Homo sapiens: one gene and its partner. The protein of the gene in region 1 purifies or fractionates together with the protein of each later gene. This does not show direct contact. Each region holds a gene or a part of one and is shown on either strand. Other genes may lie near its edges. The genes, in order: OCRL and PAK2.

Evidence for each region.
Region 2: the proteins of OCRL (region 1) and PAK2 purify together in Homo sapiens (affinity purification with mass spectrometry; 2 studies listed by BioGRID and IntAct, with this or other methods). This does not show direct contact.

The regions. Positions count from the first base shown.
Region 1 is NC_000023.11:129,584,681-129,592,258, reverse strand, and holds part of OCRL (inositol polyphosphate 5-phosphatase OCRL), read right to left. Parts: intron 5,258-7,578; coding exon 5,141-5,257; intron 4,081-5,140; coding exon 3,996-4,080; intron 3,374-3,995; coding exon 3,246-3,373; intron 2,415-3,245; coding exon 2,303-2,414; intron 2,114-2,302; coding exon 1,989-2,113; 3' UTR 1-1,988. UniProt on the Homo sapiens protein: Catalyzes the hydrolysis of the 5-position phosphate of phosphatidylinositol 4,5-bisphosphate (PtdIns(4,5)P2) and phosphatidylinositol-3,4,5-bisphosphate (PtdIns(3,4,5)P3), with the greatest catalytic activity towards PtdIns(4,5)P2.
Region 2 is NC_000003.12:196,804,815-196,813,625, reverse strand, and holds part of PAK2 (serine/threonine-protein kinase PAK 2), read right to left. Parts: intron 8,275-8,811; coding exon 8,243-8,274; intron 7,048-8,242; coding exon 6,940-7,047; intron 5,845-6,939; coding exon 5,712-5,844; intron 3,037-5,711; coding exon 2,973-3,036; intron 1,408-2,972; coding exon 1,359-1,407; intron 888-1,358; coding exon 775-887; intron 1-774. UniProt on the Homo sapiens protein: Serine/threonine protein kinase that plays a role in a variety of different signaling pathways including cytoskeleton regulation, cell motility, cell cycle progression, apoptosis or proliferation.

The DNA of each region.
Region 1 (7,578 bases):
TACAGGTTGGGGTGCTGGAATAGCCATGGTAGGGAAGCAGATTTCTTCTGTCTGGGTCTACATCTTGTCTCCTCTACCTAGAGATTGTCTAAAACTCTCAACTCTGTATATGTTCCAGGATGAGCTGAAAAAAGGTCGAGGCAGTACACCAACTTAGTGTTTTGATCTGATGTAGAAAGAGATAGGATACTGCATACGTGCAGCACAGAGCCTCCACTAACCACACCCTTGATCACCCAAAGATCCCAGGTCAGTGATATGCTAGAAAACAAGCCCAGGAAAGGTATTTCCCTGTGGTATGACCCTACCCCAGTGTCTATCATCTGCCTCTTTTTGTGATCACTTTCTGGCCTTGCGGAGATGACAAACCTGTTCTGCTCTCAGTCTTCCATTAACTAAGTTCAACACCTAGCCCCTGACCTATCATACCTCCAGATCTGTGGCACCAGTAACTTGACTCCTATTGCTTTAACTCTCAATCAGGAAAGGGTTTAGCCATATTGCAGAATACGTACCTTCCCCCCCACCCCCACCAAGAAACAGGAGAAATCACTGGTGGTGCCTTGGATATGCTAGAAATGTCACAGAGTCAATGCCCAGGATTGTACATACAGCCTGTACGTTATGCTCCTTGCAATTAATGTAAACAGGCAAGGGTGGTTGTAACAAAAGAAAACCAGGAGGAACCCAACTGCATCAGGCAGTTTTGCAGTCAGTGGTTGGTGGCTTGTTTGTCAACCAATATAGATTAATTTATTTTAAAAAAAGGCTGTACCACAGAGCTTGAATAAATGAAAAGCTCAGAGGGTCATCTTGTATGGGAGAGGTAAGGTGCTTGGTTGGTCCTGTTGGCCAGTCTCTTTACACAACACTGGATATGGTGACTGGGAGCCAAGGGGAGTCTCTAAACCCTTTATGTGAAGGAGCTGGTTGTAGAGCCCAGAGTCAGTCCTGCTGAGGAAGGAGGTGACATCTGCCCTTGGTATTTCAGAAGACCAGAGAATGGATTCTAAGGGTCATCCACAATACCTTTGCTGTGGGAAGGAGCAATAGCTCTAGATGGGCCTGCCTGAGGTACAAGACTTCCTCTTTTACTGTGGGGCCAGTGTTGCTCTGGAGGTGGATGTCTAGGCAGGAGATGGGTCTCAGAGACACCCAGGATTAGTCCTTGTGTAAAATTTGAATAATAACAGGAAAAGGATAGTGGGAAGCAGGACCTGTCAAACATGAATGCTCTCACTCTTCAGATACTCAAAGTGCTTCCATTCTGATTGTGATTCTCTCTCATCGATGAGATGCCATCTCTAATAGTCCCTACAGTTATGCTACTAAATGTGATCTAAGAGAATATGGTTCCACCCAGTGTGGAGCCATGAAAAGGCCAATGTTACAGAGACATAAAGATGCCATTGTAGTAGAAATGCACAAATGCATGTAATAACTGCACGCAGACAGTGAATTCACTGTTGAGGACACCCAAGGAGTCACTAGCCTCACTCAGACTTCGTTCAAAGTGACAGAACGAGGGGAGTGGAGTGCAAAGGAGTGATCCAGGAAGGGGTGGGTCAAAAGTGCAAAACAAAGGACTCTAGACAAGTCTCAGCTACAGCAAGTAGTGCTTGTAGGCCTAGAATGGGAAGATCTCAGAATCTAGGCCTAGGGTACTAAGGACAATCATGACAATTGGGTAGGAGGGCAACAAACACATCCCTAGGTGAAGGAGTGTAAATACAGATCTTTTTGCCTTATAAAGAGAAAACACAAAAACACCAAAATATGGTAACTTTGGCTTGGCAATATAAGTCTAAAAGTATTTTTCTGTGTAGGATATGGTAAAGGAGGGATTAGGAAACGCTCTTCCTTTTTACTATAAACAGAACTTGAAATTCTGCAATAGACCCTTCCTGTGGCATGACTTTTTAAATCATTCTGAAATACTTGGAGCCCGAGATCGTCTGCTTCTAGAATATCAGAGAACAGTAAAAGCCTTAGTCTTCTTCGCTCCCAAGCAGAAAGCCCAGAAGGAACTGAATAGCACGCTGGCGGTCACTTGGAGTCTGTCTTGCCATAAGGTTGGGTGGAGGCCTCAGGAGAAGACTAGTGAAGAGAGTAGCTACAAGACGAGAGAAAGACAAGCGGAAACTTCTGTCAGACATAACCTAAGCAAAACCTCAGGGCTGGAGGGCCTGGGGACAAGGACTATTGACTGCCATGTGCCTGCATATGCAGTAAGGTATATACTGGATACAATGCACTAAGAGTATTCTCAACAAACGCCCCGTGTTGCATGAAGCACTCTTACCGATCATGTTGGCATTGACGCTATTGTATTCAGAGAATTTTAAGAGTTCTCGAAGGAATGCCATCAAGTAACGGAAAACATTTCTATGGCATCTCGGAAGCTGGGAGATCACCTGTTTTTAAAAATAGGGGCAGGCAGTGAGAAAAACAGGTGGAAGATGAAAGTAAGAGGAACTTACAGCTGCTGTAATAGTAGTCTATAATCCAACCCTTGCAGGACCCATTTCATCTGTCTAACTTCTATTATCTCCTCATGGCCAACACAATACCTTCCAAATTATAACTTCAAAGTAAGAGTGGCCGTGCTGTTTGGTCCCTGTCCACTCAATGACCAGGCCACGTGGTCATCACACATTCATACGCACACCCTGCCTCACAATAGGTCAGTGTTCATCTGTTCTTTTCCCATTTCCGTAGGCATGTAGCCACGGCACCTACCAAGCTGAATGGTTTTCTGTTCTTTTTTGTTTGAATGGTTTTCTTTACAATGTCACTTAGCATGGATGGGGACTCCTCTCAATACTCACTAGTCCAATTCACAGGTACTGTCAGCTACTGTGCATTAAAATCATTTCAGGATTAAAAACACACACCAAGAAGAGAAAAAGAAGAAAGGCTCCCAAGTGTCACCCATCCTTCCTGGTAATGTCAGCCAGAATTCCACGTACAATCAGCTTCACCAATTTACCCCAGAGTAGAGGGATCCACCCCACTATGTTTTCTGTAAACAGAAATAGGCCAATGGGAAAAAGGTGGCAAATATCGTAGGAAACAACACAACCTAAAATTTAAGGGTAGCAACTCTCAATGTTGGTGTCCTGCCATTAATAACAGATGCAGACCCATCCTACCAGACAGCTGGCTGCCTATCTGGCTCTGTAAAACTGACGACTTCTCTATGGGGCAATCTGCGTCAAACACATCCCCAGGTCAGTAGAACCCACCTGTCGGCAGATCCGGGGATCATAAGCAGAGTCAAGACATCGCTGATACAGCTCGTAACAGATGACTGGCTCTGGCAGGGCTTCCAAGAAAATGAGCAGTGCTTCAGCCACAGAGTGGTTGCTGCCAGCTGAATCAACTTAAGTCAAGGGAAAGGAGCTCCAGGAGAAAGGCCACACAGAGCCCCGACGAGCTCCTTTCCTCAAGCTCCTACAGGGACTGTTTCCCTCCTCTTATTCAGGGCACATTGATCCTAATGGGGGTTTGATATTTTATTGATTCAAGTGCCCTGCAGGTGAGTTGTTACAGAATTGGTCAAAGACTCTTGGCAGCTTTGGCCCAGCTTCAGGGTCAGGGGAATATAGCCTGCAGAGTGACAGTTGACACTGGAGCAGTCCTATAAACCAGGTGCCCATGTTTCCCATCCTTCTCCCTGCCCTGTCAACAGTACGTGTGGTGGCAGGAGTGACTGATCACCTGAAGGAGAATAGTACCAGTGCTGTGGCTTCTATGTCCCATGCTTTTAAGTCATTGTTATCTACCCCTTGCTTCCTTTTAGTAAGAGCTGGATATGGAAAGAGGTCAAAAGTTCCTGAAAGGAAATGAGAAACAAGTGGATAGTCAGTGGTTATCTTATAATAAAAGATATTACAAAGAAAATAAATATAGAACCACAAAAATCAAATATAGGTGCGAAGAAGAGTTTGATCAAGTACTCATCCAGCTTCTTAAGCTTTGGTCGCAAAGGATACGGATTGTCTCAGGAATGCTGGTATCCAGACAATCAATGATCTGCTGGAGCTCTTCCTGCATTCCAGGGGTCTGGAACAGGTCCTCCTACCAAAGAAGTCAGAATGAAGGGACAGGCAAGATAATCACTCCTGAGGTTATGATGATTACCCAAGGATCAGAAGAGCAGCAGGAAGCAAAAGGGAAGGGTGGTATGTGTGTTAATAATTACAAATGGAGGTGTGAAAATAACACATTTTTCCTTTAGCATTTCTCTAATCCATGTGAAATGTTATTTCAAATAGGAAAATGATCTTTTCAAAGGTTTTAGCCTGTACCTAATAAGGCAGGGGACTAGATGGCTAGAGCAGGAAACCAGGTGTTCTAATTCTAGCCTCCTTTAAAATTTTTTTTTATAGAGATGGGGTTTCACCGTGTTGCCCAGGCTGGTCTCAAACTCCTGAGCTCAAGCAATGCGCCCGTCTCTGCCTCCCAAAATGCTGGGATTACAGGCATGAGCCACCATGCCTGGCCTACTTGTAGCCTCTTGACAAGCAGCAGAAGGCAGAGTCCAAACAGAATAACCACATTCAAATGCTAGTACTACTGAACGCTGGGGAAGGAGGAAATCGCATGCTCATACTAAACCTTGCTTTCAAGTTACATTATTCGTCAGTAGGTAAGAGAACATTACCTTTCAATTTAGTCCCAAGAAATATCTCTTTTGGGGGCGAATGAGGTGGGGTGGCATTTTAGTTAGGATTTAAAAGAAAAATTAGGACCAAGTTAAAAAATGGGTTTAAAATCTGCTTTGGATTTTACAATCTCTAATGCCTACATGACTCATAGCCAAAGTAGGCATTATAGACTCAGGTGTGCAGCTGTCCAGGGAAAATGAGAGGGTAGCCAGGAGACAGGTGCTCTTAATTTGGTCCTGGCTCTGCCACAACTACACTTAGGCCTTTGTCTTAGTAAATAACTTACCTTTACATGCTTCAGCTGTGACATCTGTGACTAGGACACTTCCACCCACCCAGTCGATCTGACAGTGCCACTGTGTGCAGGTAGCTTGGGAAAGTTAAAAGCGCTATGCTGACGTGAGGTGTTGTGATTTCCTATAGTAGTTACACACCTTCCAAAGTTGTAGGGAAGGTCTACTCTCACTTACCTGGTGACAGGCGTATTTGAATAGGTGATCTACTAGAAGCCAGATCTCCTTGGGAACCTGAAGGGGTCTCTCACTGGCACCTTCATCCAAAGGAACCATTTGCAGAAGGGATTTCTCCTAATAGATGGAAAAGTATGAGAATCAAAGGGGTCTCAGAATAAAGACTTTGGTGTATAACTTAAAGTCCTTCAAATTCTGGTCATGCAGGTAAAATGTGATCTTCATCTCTTAAGATTTTCCATTTCTTCTCACTGGGGACACTCCTGGTCAGAAGGCACTTGATAGCGAGTCCCATAGTTAAAGGATGTCCTTTCCTAAATGCTTCACTTAATTGTTCTGCATTTCATTTGCGTTTATGATGTTTATTACGTGGATGCCTTGTGTTTAAATCCTTTCAAAGGTGACACTGAGAACCAGTGCTCCGGTGATACAGTCACAGTGGAGTCCATACAGCACTGGTGACTTGGGGACTATTAAATTACAATTGTCAATACAGTAGTTTGAGAGATCAAGGTCTACACTTAGGTTTTTGTTTATTTCTAACTTACTCTTCCTTCAGGTCTTACCACAGATACTGTTGTTTGTTTTCAATGTTGATTTAAATTAGCTTCTTTAGTTTTCAGGAATTAAAGACAACTCTCCACAACATTAGACCCACATATGTAAATACTTCAGGCTTGATGGAAGTTCTAATCTTAAGGTGCTAAAACTCGTAAGCCTTAAGGTCCAAAAATAGTAAACTGAATACAGCTAACCAAGAGGCAGAAATACCACGAAAAGTTTAAGGTCTGAGTCCAGAAGTTACAGTTTCTAGGAATAGCTCAGCCAAGATTTCTAGGGGCTTTTACTCCTTTCATCTATCTTTCTACTATCTGTTATATTCTTCTGAAAGAATTTTGTAAGAGAAAAACCCAGAAGTGACATAAATCAAATCAATCACTATATGTGAATTGGAAATGGCTAGGAAATAAACTCAGTTATCTTAGGTTCATGTAATCAAATATAAATTACATGAAAAAATGTTTGAAATAGTAAAGGCACCTGAAGGCACCCTTCATAAAAATCCCAGTGGAGAGAACCATGACCAATTTTTTTGCATCCTCCTCCCTCCCCCGCCTCTAGCTTGAGGTCATATATATTCTGTATGTTTAACTAAGAAATTCTTGCCTAACATTGTGCAACTTGTGAATTCCATCCACAACCCCCAGTCACGTAGCTTTAAAAGAAAAAAAAAGGAGCATGTCACTACTTTGACAGAGACCACATACACTACAGCCGAGCTGAGGTCTCTTCTTAACATTGTGTTCTTTAACAAGCACTGATGACCTTTAAAAGCTGCTGTGCCTTTCCAAGGGAATAAGAAAGAGAAGGGAGTGTGACAGTTGGTTACCATTTAAAATCTTTCTTTTTTTTCCCCACATTCAGTTTGCTTCCTTTCTTTCCCTGGGATTCTATCACTTGATATTCATGTTCCTAATAGTTGCCAGAATGTCTATCAATGGCTCATCCATTTACTTCTTTCCAGTTACAAATATCAAATCCAAGCATCCACATGGTATTTGAGACAAAACACTGTCCATCATGCACTCTGCTAACTCTCTGGACCAAATGCAGCACGTGTACTGATTCTTTAGCAGATGCCTCCAAACTTGCCATATAGAAATTATGCAGCACTGATTCATGTACTTTTTAAAAAGTCTGACATCCAACTGGAGCTTTTCCTGTACTAAGGCATTAAGGCAACACAAGGCACTGCCTAAGATAAAAAGACAGAACATGGACTGCTCTTAACAGGGAAGAGCTAGGAAGCACAGCTGTCTCAAACCTTGGTGGTTTAAAAAGGTTAATAAAGTGTCAGTAGATTATATACACCATCCACTATTCATTTTCAAATTCCTGTATGATAATATGGAATGCCACAGTTGTGTCTCCAAAGTCTAGAGAAAGATCATACACAGAAAATACTTGAATAATTTCACAAATTATCCTGAACTCTAATTTTCAAAGGAAAACCAAGGTACTTTGTCTTCTTTCAACAAGACACATTCAGCGCCTGATAAGCCCACACTCTGTAACCTTACTTAGTGTTAATAACTAAAGCATGAAAACAGTATACCATCCCCATCATCAAAAGGCATTAAATTCCACCAAGTGGGTACAGTGCATGACTTCAGCAAGTTTTTCAACCTTTCTGGGCCTTGGTTGTCTCATCTATTAGAATGGAGAAAATACCCTGTCTGAAGGTAGAGGCCTGAACCAGATGATCTTTTATGATCTTGTTCAGGTCCACGGTTCTATTCTATGCTCTATTTCTTGATCATATCTGTGTATTTTTTTCTGAAATTAATTGCTATGATCATTAACCTCAAATCATTTTTAATGCAACAGAAAGCTACTTCTTCAGGTTTTATTGTCATTGGAAATGGAGGACAGCTAAC
Region 2 (8,811 bases), on another chromosome or scaffold:
AAGTCTCTAAACATTATTTTTTCCTCATTCTAAACAAATTTAAATATGGAAGAAAATCACCTATAATCACCTCTATCTTCAATAAAACCACTGTTATCATTTTCAACGAATCTTCTCTCATGCAGTTGTAGTAATATACATCATTTTCTTTTCTTTTTTTTTTTTTTTGAGATGGAGTCTCATTCCATTGCCCAGGCTGGAGTGCAGTGGTGCGATCTCGGCTCACTGCAACCTCCACCTCCTGGGTTCAAGCAATTCTCCTGCCTCAGCCTCCTGAGTAGCTGGGATTACAGGTGTGAGCCACTGCACCCAGCCAATATGCATCATTTTCTATTCTGCTTTTTGGTCTGTTATTTAACATTAATTCCTCAACTAAATGAGGTTTTGATAGACATATAAATTTGTCCATGAAGGATAGCATTTGAAATAAAAATTGATCCACAAGTTTAAAAACCATGTAACCAGTCCCCTCTGTCAGTCAAGACACGAATCACAGCCAACCATTCATGTGTTCGCTTCAGGTCGTTTGCGATGAGTATAAACACCACCAGCTATGGCCTTCAATTAACTGCCTTCTCTCACCTGCCAAGTGATGTCCTTGCAGAGAAGGACCTTCTAAAACTGCACTGTGCTATTTTTACCTCTCCTCTTCTTTCTTCCATCTTATTTCTCGGCACTGACAGTTTATTCCAAAGTGGCCAGCCCCACCCCCGAAACCATGAGACTTAAAATTTCTACATTTTCTCCCGGTGTTTAAGGAATAGTCATACTTACCTGTCCAAAAAGTTAACGATGTTGGGATTTTTCAATTCTTTCATCACCAGAATCTCGTTAATGATCAGTTCCTTCTTTGGCTGTTTCTGTAAATTAATTTGTTTGATAGCAACCTATAATGAAAACAGGATTGAAAAAAACCAGGTTTAGGAATTCTCTTAGAAAATTACAAACCCCAAGCAGTTGATAACTCACGGTACGTGTACTGTATTACACCATGCTATTACTCCCAGGTGGCACCTTGCCTTGCACACTGCCTGTGCACAATGCTTTGTAATGTTTAGAACCTAGTTTTAGATTTATCTTGAAGTTGATTAATACACCCACAGTCAGTCCAATACTAAGAATTAATCCTCTTTTCACTTCAAGCTGAGGAAACAATTTTTAAGTATTTGCTTATTTATGACATTGAACTCATAAGTCCTTCCCCGCCTTACTGACAGAAGTGCTATAAACATACGTAGAGCGATTCTTACAACGGGCTCAACTTAAAAGAGGTTCCTATTGCTTCTTCCCAGCTTCATCTAGTTTCCACCTATATGACAAAATAATGGTAACACCCAGGATTACAACAAAGTAACTACCTCCTGTCCCAGTGCAACGTCAGTAGCAGTGAAAACTGTACCAGAAGCCCTAGAGGGAGAAAACACACAACCAGATTTAAGGTTGATAAATCACTAGCATTTGCAATATCCAAAGACTTTACACTTCAAGCAATTGAAAAAGAATTAAAGAACAGGATGACCTAACGTGCTTAAAAGGAGTAAAAGCAAAAACCTGAGGAAAGGGGGTGGGGGAAGAAAGAGACAATCCTTACGGCAAAACTTATGTGTGAAATATTTCAGACCTACAAAAATGTAGGGAAAAAAGAGCAGGAAAAAAATTATATAACATATACTTAAGGATACACTTCCCTGATTAAGATACAAATAACTGTAAATAATTTGAAGATTCCCATAAGCCCTTTCCGACAGCAGTCTCCTTCCTCCCAAAGGTGATCTGTATTTGGTGTTTATCCTGTATTTGGTGTTCATCATTTTCATGCATTTCTCCATACTTTTAACTACAAAGGACGCAGATATGTATCCCTATAAAATATACTTTGTCTAATTTTTAAACGTCATATAGTTTCATTTCACATATTATTCTGCAACTTGCTTTTGTGACTCAACACTGGATTTGTGATGGTCATCCATATGGATAGGTATTGCTTGTTCATTCATGCTCAAAAATAGTAAGATAATCTTCAATTCTCTTTCATAAAACCAGTGCTGCAATTGAATTTAGCTGTTAGGAAGAAATTCAGGCCTGGTGCAGTGGCTCACACCTGTAATCCCAACACTTTGGGAGGCTGAGGCAGAAGAATCGTTTGAACCCGGGAGGCAGAGGTTGCAGTGAGCTGAGATTATGTCACTGCACTCCAGCCTGAGTGACAGACTCCGCCAAAAAAAAAAAAAAAAAAAAAGGGAAGGAAGGAAGAGAAGGAAGGGAAGGGAGGGAAGGAAGGGAGGGAAGGGAGGGAAGGGAAGGAAGGAAAGGAAGGGAAGGAAGGGAGGGAGGGAAGGGAGGGAAGGGAGGGAAGGGAAGGAAGGGAGGGAGGGGAGGGAGGGAAGGAAGGGAAGGGAAGGGAGGGAGGGAAGGGAAGGAAGGGAGGAAGGAATTCATATGGAAGTTTTCAAAAATGGCTTAAGCCCTCACTCTAAATTCACAGAATGCTTTCCAGAGTTTAATAACATTAAAAATTTAGGTGTTTATTTGCTTCCAAGCAACAGAAAAAAGGAGTTTAGTTAGTATACTTTAAAAATACAAATTACACAACAAAATCAGAAGATCAGTAGACTCAAAAGTCAATACACAATGACATGATTTAAATGCATTTTTTATTGCTTATAGTCATGCAGTAAATATTCTTATTGTCTTTTAAATATATTTTATGGGCAATTCTTCCCTCTAATTATCACAGATGGGAAATGACACTTAAGAAAAAATAATGATACACAGTCATTGCTAACAACTAGTACAGTTTTTTAACAGCATCTACAAATAACTGCATTATTTATTTACACAAATCCCCCAAGGGTACCACTCACAGAATACTATATAAGTACTTGATGTCGGCAGGCAAAATAAACATCATGCTATAAAGCCAGGAAATACTGAATACTGAATATTATCGTAATACAGTCACAAATACTTACCCTTGTCCAATTTTTTCATATCTTGTATATTTTTTCTTAGGGTCACCTATGCTCACGATAGTTCCTAGAATAAACAAAAAGCTGGAAGCTCAGTCAAGCATTTTAAGTGTAAATTGATTGTGATATTATTATTCCTTTTAATGAACTCCACTGTTTTTATAAGTGATTTTCAAACATAATACTAAGTTCCAAAAATAACAGGTTTCAAACACAAAACACTAAAGAAACTTAAATACATAATAAAAGTTTAAAAGTATCAGAAACAAGACACATTAAAAGTTTAAAAGTAACAGAAACAAGAAGACACATTATTTCCATTAGGTTAGACCTCCTAACTAATCATTTGCTCAATAATGGTCACATTTTGAAAAGACTGTACCAGTTTGTCAGAGATTAATTAGGTTCTCAGATGTTCAGCTTTAGAATCAGGTAATCTCAAGAAAATAGACATATTTGAATATAAAATAGATATATTTGAATATAGAAATAGATATATTTGAATATATCTATTAATAGGTAAGTTTGAGACTACTTAGTATTATAAATAATAAAGGCTATCTAAACCCTAAATGGTCTTTCTGACTCTTCCAGTATACATTTCATCTTTCAATATATTTAGAAAACCACTTATTACCATAAAAATTACTATGCTCTGACATAAACTAATCATATGTTTGTTTTAGGAAAGTTCAAAGTCACAAGAAAGAGGTTTTAAAATTAGGAAGTTGGACATAAAATCCTAACTTATATTCTTATTACTAGTAAGAAAAACCACATTAAACTTTCACTTGCTCAAGGTAAAAAAGGACAGGACCATATCAAGGAAACTGACATAAATAGTTTTATGTAGGTACCCAACCTCAAGTCAACAAGCAAAGAAACAGGATCAATAATAAGAGGCTAAGAACAAAAAGATACCAAAAAGACTGGGGATGTGACAGCTAAAGGTCACAACTAAATGATGACAATTAGGATTCTAGTTAATTTTTTTTTTTTTTTTAAGTAGCAGCTCTCCTAAAATAATTCTTATATGCTCATAGAGTAACAGAGCAGGCCAGGTGTGGTGACTCATGCCTGAGGTCAGGAGTTTGAGACCAGCCCAGCCAACATGGTGAAACCCCATCTCTACTAAAACTACAAAAATTAGCGGGGTGTGGTGGCGCACACCTGTAGCCCCAGCTACTCGGGAGGCTGAGGCAGAAGAAACGCTTGAACTGGAGAGGCAGAGATTGCAGTGAGCCACGCCACTGCACTCCAGCCTGGGTGACAGAGCGAGACTCTGTCTCAAAAAAAAAAAAAAAAAAAGATAATAATAATAACAGAGTAAGAGCCAGGTTTATACTTGAAAGCACTGAGAAATCAAAACCAAATAAACATGGGGCATATAAACATTTGTTTATTTTTTAGAGACAGGGTCTCACTCTGTCACCCAGGCTGGAGTGCAGTGGCGCAATCACAGCTCACTACAGCCTTGAACTCACGGGCTCAAGCAATCCTCCTGCCTCAGGCTCCCAGTCAGCTGGGACTACAGACATGCACCACCAGGTCTCGTTAATTTTCTTTTTTTCTTTTTTTTTTGAGGGGGTGGAGTCGGGGTCTAAGTTGTATAGTTCGGCCTTGAACTCCTGGACTCCAGCTATCCTCCTATCTTGGCCAGCCAACGTACCGAGATTATAGGTTTGAGCCACTATGCCCAGGCTTTATGTTTAAAACAATCCTTCCATACAGTATTTTTCCTTGAACCCTCTAGATTAGCATTCTTTAATTGTTAATTTTATTTATTATTATTTTTTGAGACTGAGTCTCGCTCTTTCGCCCAGGCTGGAGTGCAGTGGCACGATCTCGGCTCACTGCAATCTCCGCCTCCCAGGTTCAAGTGATTCTCCTGCCTTAGCTCCCCAAGTAGCTGGGATTACAGGCACCTGCCATGACACCTTGCTAATTTTTGTTTTTAGTAGAGATGGGGTTTTGCCACATTGGCCAGGCTAGTCTTGCTCCTGACCTCAAGTGATCCACCCACCTTGGTCTCCCAAAGTGCTGGGATTATAGGCATGAGCCACAGTGCCCGGCCGGTTCGCTTTTTTTTTTTTTTTTTTGAGATGGAGTCTCACTGTTGCCAGGCTGGAGTGCAGTGGCGCGATCTCGGCTCACTATAACCTCCGCCTCCCGGGTTCAAGTGATTCTCTTGCCTCAGCCTCCCAAGCAGCTGGTACTACAGGCACATGCCACCATGCCCAGCTGATTTTTGTATTTTTAGTAGAGGAGGGGTTTCACCATACTGGCCAGGATGGTCTCGATCTCCTGACCTTGTGATCCGCCCACCTCGGCCTCCCAAAGTGCTGGGATTACAGGCGTGAGCCACCGCGCCCAGCCCAACGACGCAATCTTGGCTCACTGCAACCTCCACCTCCTGGGTTCAAGTGATTCTCTTGCCTCAGCCTCCAAGTAGCTGGGATTACAGGCACATGCCAGCACATCCAGCTAATTTTTGTATTTTTAGTAGAGACGGGGTTTCACCATGTTGGCCAGGCTGGTCTTGATCTCCTGACCTAGTGCTGGGATTTAGGGGTGAACCTGGTGACATCACCAGATTGTAATTGAAGCTACTGTTGCTATAAGGAAACAATTTATTCTTTATACTTTAAGTCACAATGTAAAGTGTAAGTTAAAATCCATCTGGGCCAAATGTTTTAAGAGCCGTGAACAATTTAACAATGATGTAAAATGTAGATAACATACTTAATTTCTCCATAATCTCTTCATCTGTCATCTTAGTCTTCTTTTTCTGTTTGTCTAAAGACTTGGCAGCACCATCAACATGTGAATCACCAACTGGTGCAGGAACAGGGTCAATTACAGACCGTGTGTAAATCTGTGGAGACACAGTTCATTACCAAGGTTTGAGGAATAATGTTTTCAGATATTCTTCCTGGCAAACTAATTCAGTTCTTTGATTTTTAACCTGAACTAAGTAGTCTTTTCCATTGTTCTAAATAATGAGAACACTATTTTCAGATATAAAAGATGTGTAACTAAGAAGAATAAATGTGAAACATTTTTCTTTGGCATAGCATGAATATATTTGAAAAGCTGTCTAGTAAAACAGCAGGTCCATGAATGAAATTTAAGTGTGACCAGGTCTAAAATGGTATAACAATGTATCAAAAAGCACGGTTTAAAAATCATGTTTTTACTACAAATGGTAAGTAAAATGCAAAAGAACAGAAACCTTGATGTTGAAATAACTATTATTAATTCCCATGAAAGTTTTTACACAATTATAATGCCTACCACCCATTTCAAACAGCCAGATTGAAAGGCTAAAGAAAACGGAGTCCTCTGCCATCAGCTTGGCATCCAGAGGCTGTCTCCTGAGCTCTGCCTGCCCGCTGTGCCAGGAGCACAGCCCATTCCACGGCACAGCACCTTCCGCACACTCTACCTGCAGTACTGAAGGGAGCAGAATGGTAACCGCAGTCATTCCTCTCTTCCTGGCTCCATTTAAGGTCATCATTTTTAAAATTCTCCCTTACCTGGTTAGGAATTTCATTCTCAACTGCCTTTTGAATGACAGCAAGGCGCTGAGAGTAGTGTAAAATGGGAGATTAAAATGCATAATCTGGGTAAGAGGAAAGCTCTAAGTTTTAGATTTAGTCGTCATCTACATTGAGATAAACAGAGAAAGCTTGGGAAATAGACGAACCCTCTGGAAAAGGTGTACTATACAAAGAAAAAAGCCCAGTGAGGTGAGTGCGTTAACTTTTAAAGACATCACATTTTAATCTTCAGAAAACTAGTTTTAGGTGAGTGGTCTTTGGGTACAGATTTCTTGGTTAAATTTCCCCATACTAAACGATTTTAAACTTGAGGGCTTTTTAAAAGCAATCACTGAAAGTCAAATACAAACTCTGCTATTTTTTAAAACACACGTGCACACACACAGCCTAGATCACCGATGGAGACTCACTGATTTCGTATGATCCGGTCGCGGGGCAATAACGGGAGGAGCAGTCTCTTCATCATCATCCTCCTCCTCTGTCACTACTGCGGGTGCTTCTGTTCCCTTGGCATTCAGCTGCATTGATGATGAGCAAAGTAAGGAAAACAAGTCCAATAGGCTTAAATGCGACTATCGCCCTTTATGAACGTACTTCAAAAAGTTTGCTTCTTTGATAGCTCATTTCAAAACCACTAAATCTCATTAGCTCTTAGATAACTCAATAGAATTATAATCTAACATAATAAGGCGATTCTATGAATCATGAAAAAGTTTATGAAATATATATATATGGTGAGTACCAAATATTTTAATAAAGTTACCCTAAGCATACATATACAATGTCCTGAAAGTAAACAATGTTACTTGTTAAGACCAAAATCAAAGATCCTCTGGGCTTTGTTATGTCAGAGACATCTGGTGACATTTAAAACAGTCAGATTTGGGGCCGGGCATGGTGGCTCACGTCTGTAATCCCAGCACTTTGGGAGGCCGAGGTGGGTGGATCACAAGGTCAGGAGATCAAGACCATCCTGGCTAACACGGTAAAACCCCGTCTCTACTAAAAACACAAAAAATTAGCTGGTCGTGGTGGCAGGCGCCTGTAGTCCCAGCTACTCGGGAGGCTGAGGCAGGAGAATGGAGTGAACCCAGAAGACGGTGCGTGCAGTGAGCCAAGATTGCGCCACTGCACTCCAGCCTGGGCGACAGAGCGAGACTCTAACTCAAAAAAAATAAAAATAAAATAAATAAATAAATAAAATAAAATAAAATATAAAAAAATAAAACTCCAGGAGACTGTTTCCTCCCAATTGAGAAACTGCAAATAAAACGACTGTTTCCAAAAACTGACTGTGTTTATGCGATAACTTAAGTTTCAGATGACTCTGAAGACTGACAAGGTTCAACTGTTCAGCACCTTTCCACAGTCTATATTCAGTAAAATAGTACCAGAAGGAAAACTGAGGGATGGAGAGGAAAATATATGCTAGCAAGTTCTTTGTGTTCACGTTTGTATATGTTAACATTACCAAAACTAACTAAACTGTTCTGAAGGTCATTATAAATTTTAGTTACATTAAGTATCACATCAAGGAATTTCTATTTAATACGGCTTCTTCAACTAATCAGGTGGCTAGCTAAAAACACCTATTGAGTAGTTATTTACCTCTGATGGCTGTAATTTATTTTAGAAAGCAAAATAAAAACTGAGATTTGTCTTGGGTAACCTAAATTAGAACAAGAGATACAAGAAATAATATAATTAACTTACTGCTGGTGTTCCAGAAGGAAAGCCATCTTTCTCTGAATATGAAACAAAACATAACATTAGCAATTCAAGAAACAGCACTTTTATATGATAAAAGGAAAAAAAAAAAGCAGAGAAAGTGAAATGTTCTTAAACTGATTTCAAGTTGAATTAACTCTTGAGAAAAATGAACACGCAAGTAGTCAAATAAGAATTTATATAAGACCAAGGTAAGAAATCTGAAATCTACATGAAACTATAAATTTAGTAAAAATCAGTGAATTATATATTTAAAATGGGTGAATTGTATTGCATGTAAATTATACCTCAATAAAGCTATCAAAATTTAGTTTGAAAGTATACCTATCAATCTGTATTTATTAAAACAAAACAAATTTATTGATAAAGATACTTTCTCCAGAAAACTGCTGACTGAGGAACTTAATGCAACAATTAAGACAATGACAATTGTGCAAAGTAAAATTCTGACATTGTTTTGTTTTTCTTTTAAAAATGCCCAGAGACATACATATATGTGTGTGTGTGTGTATATGTGTGTGTGTATATATATATATATATGTGTATATATATAT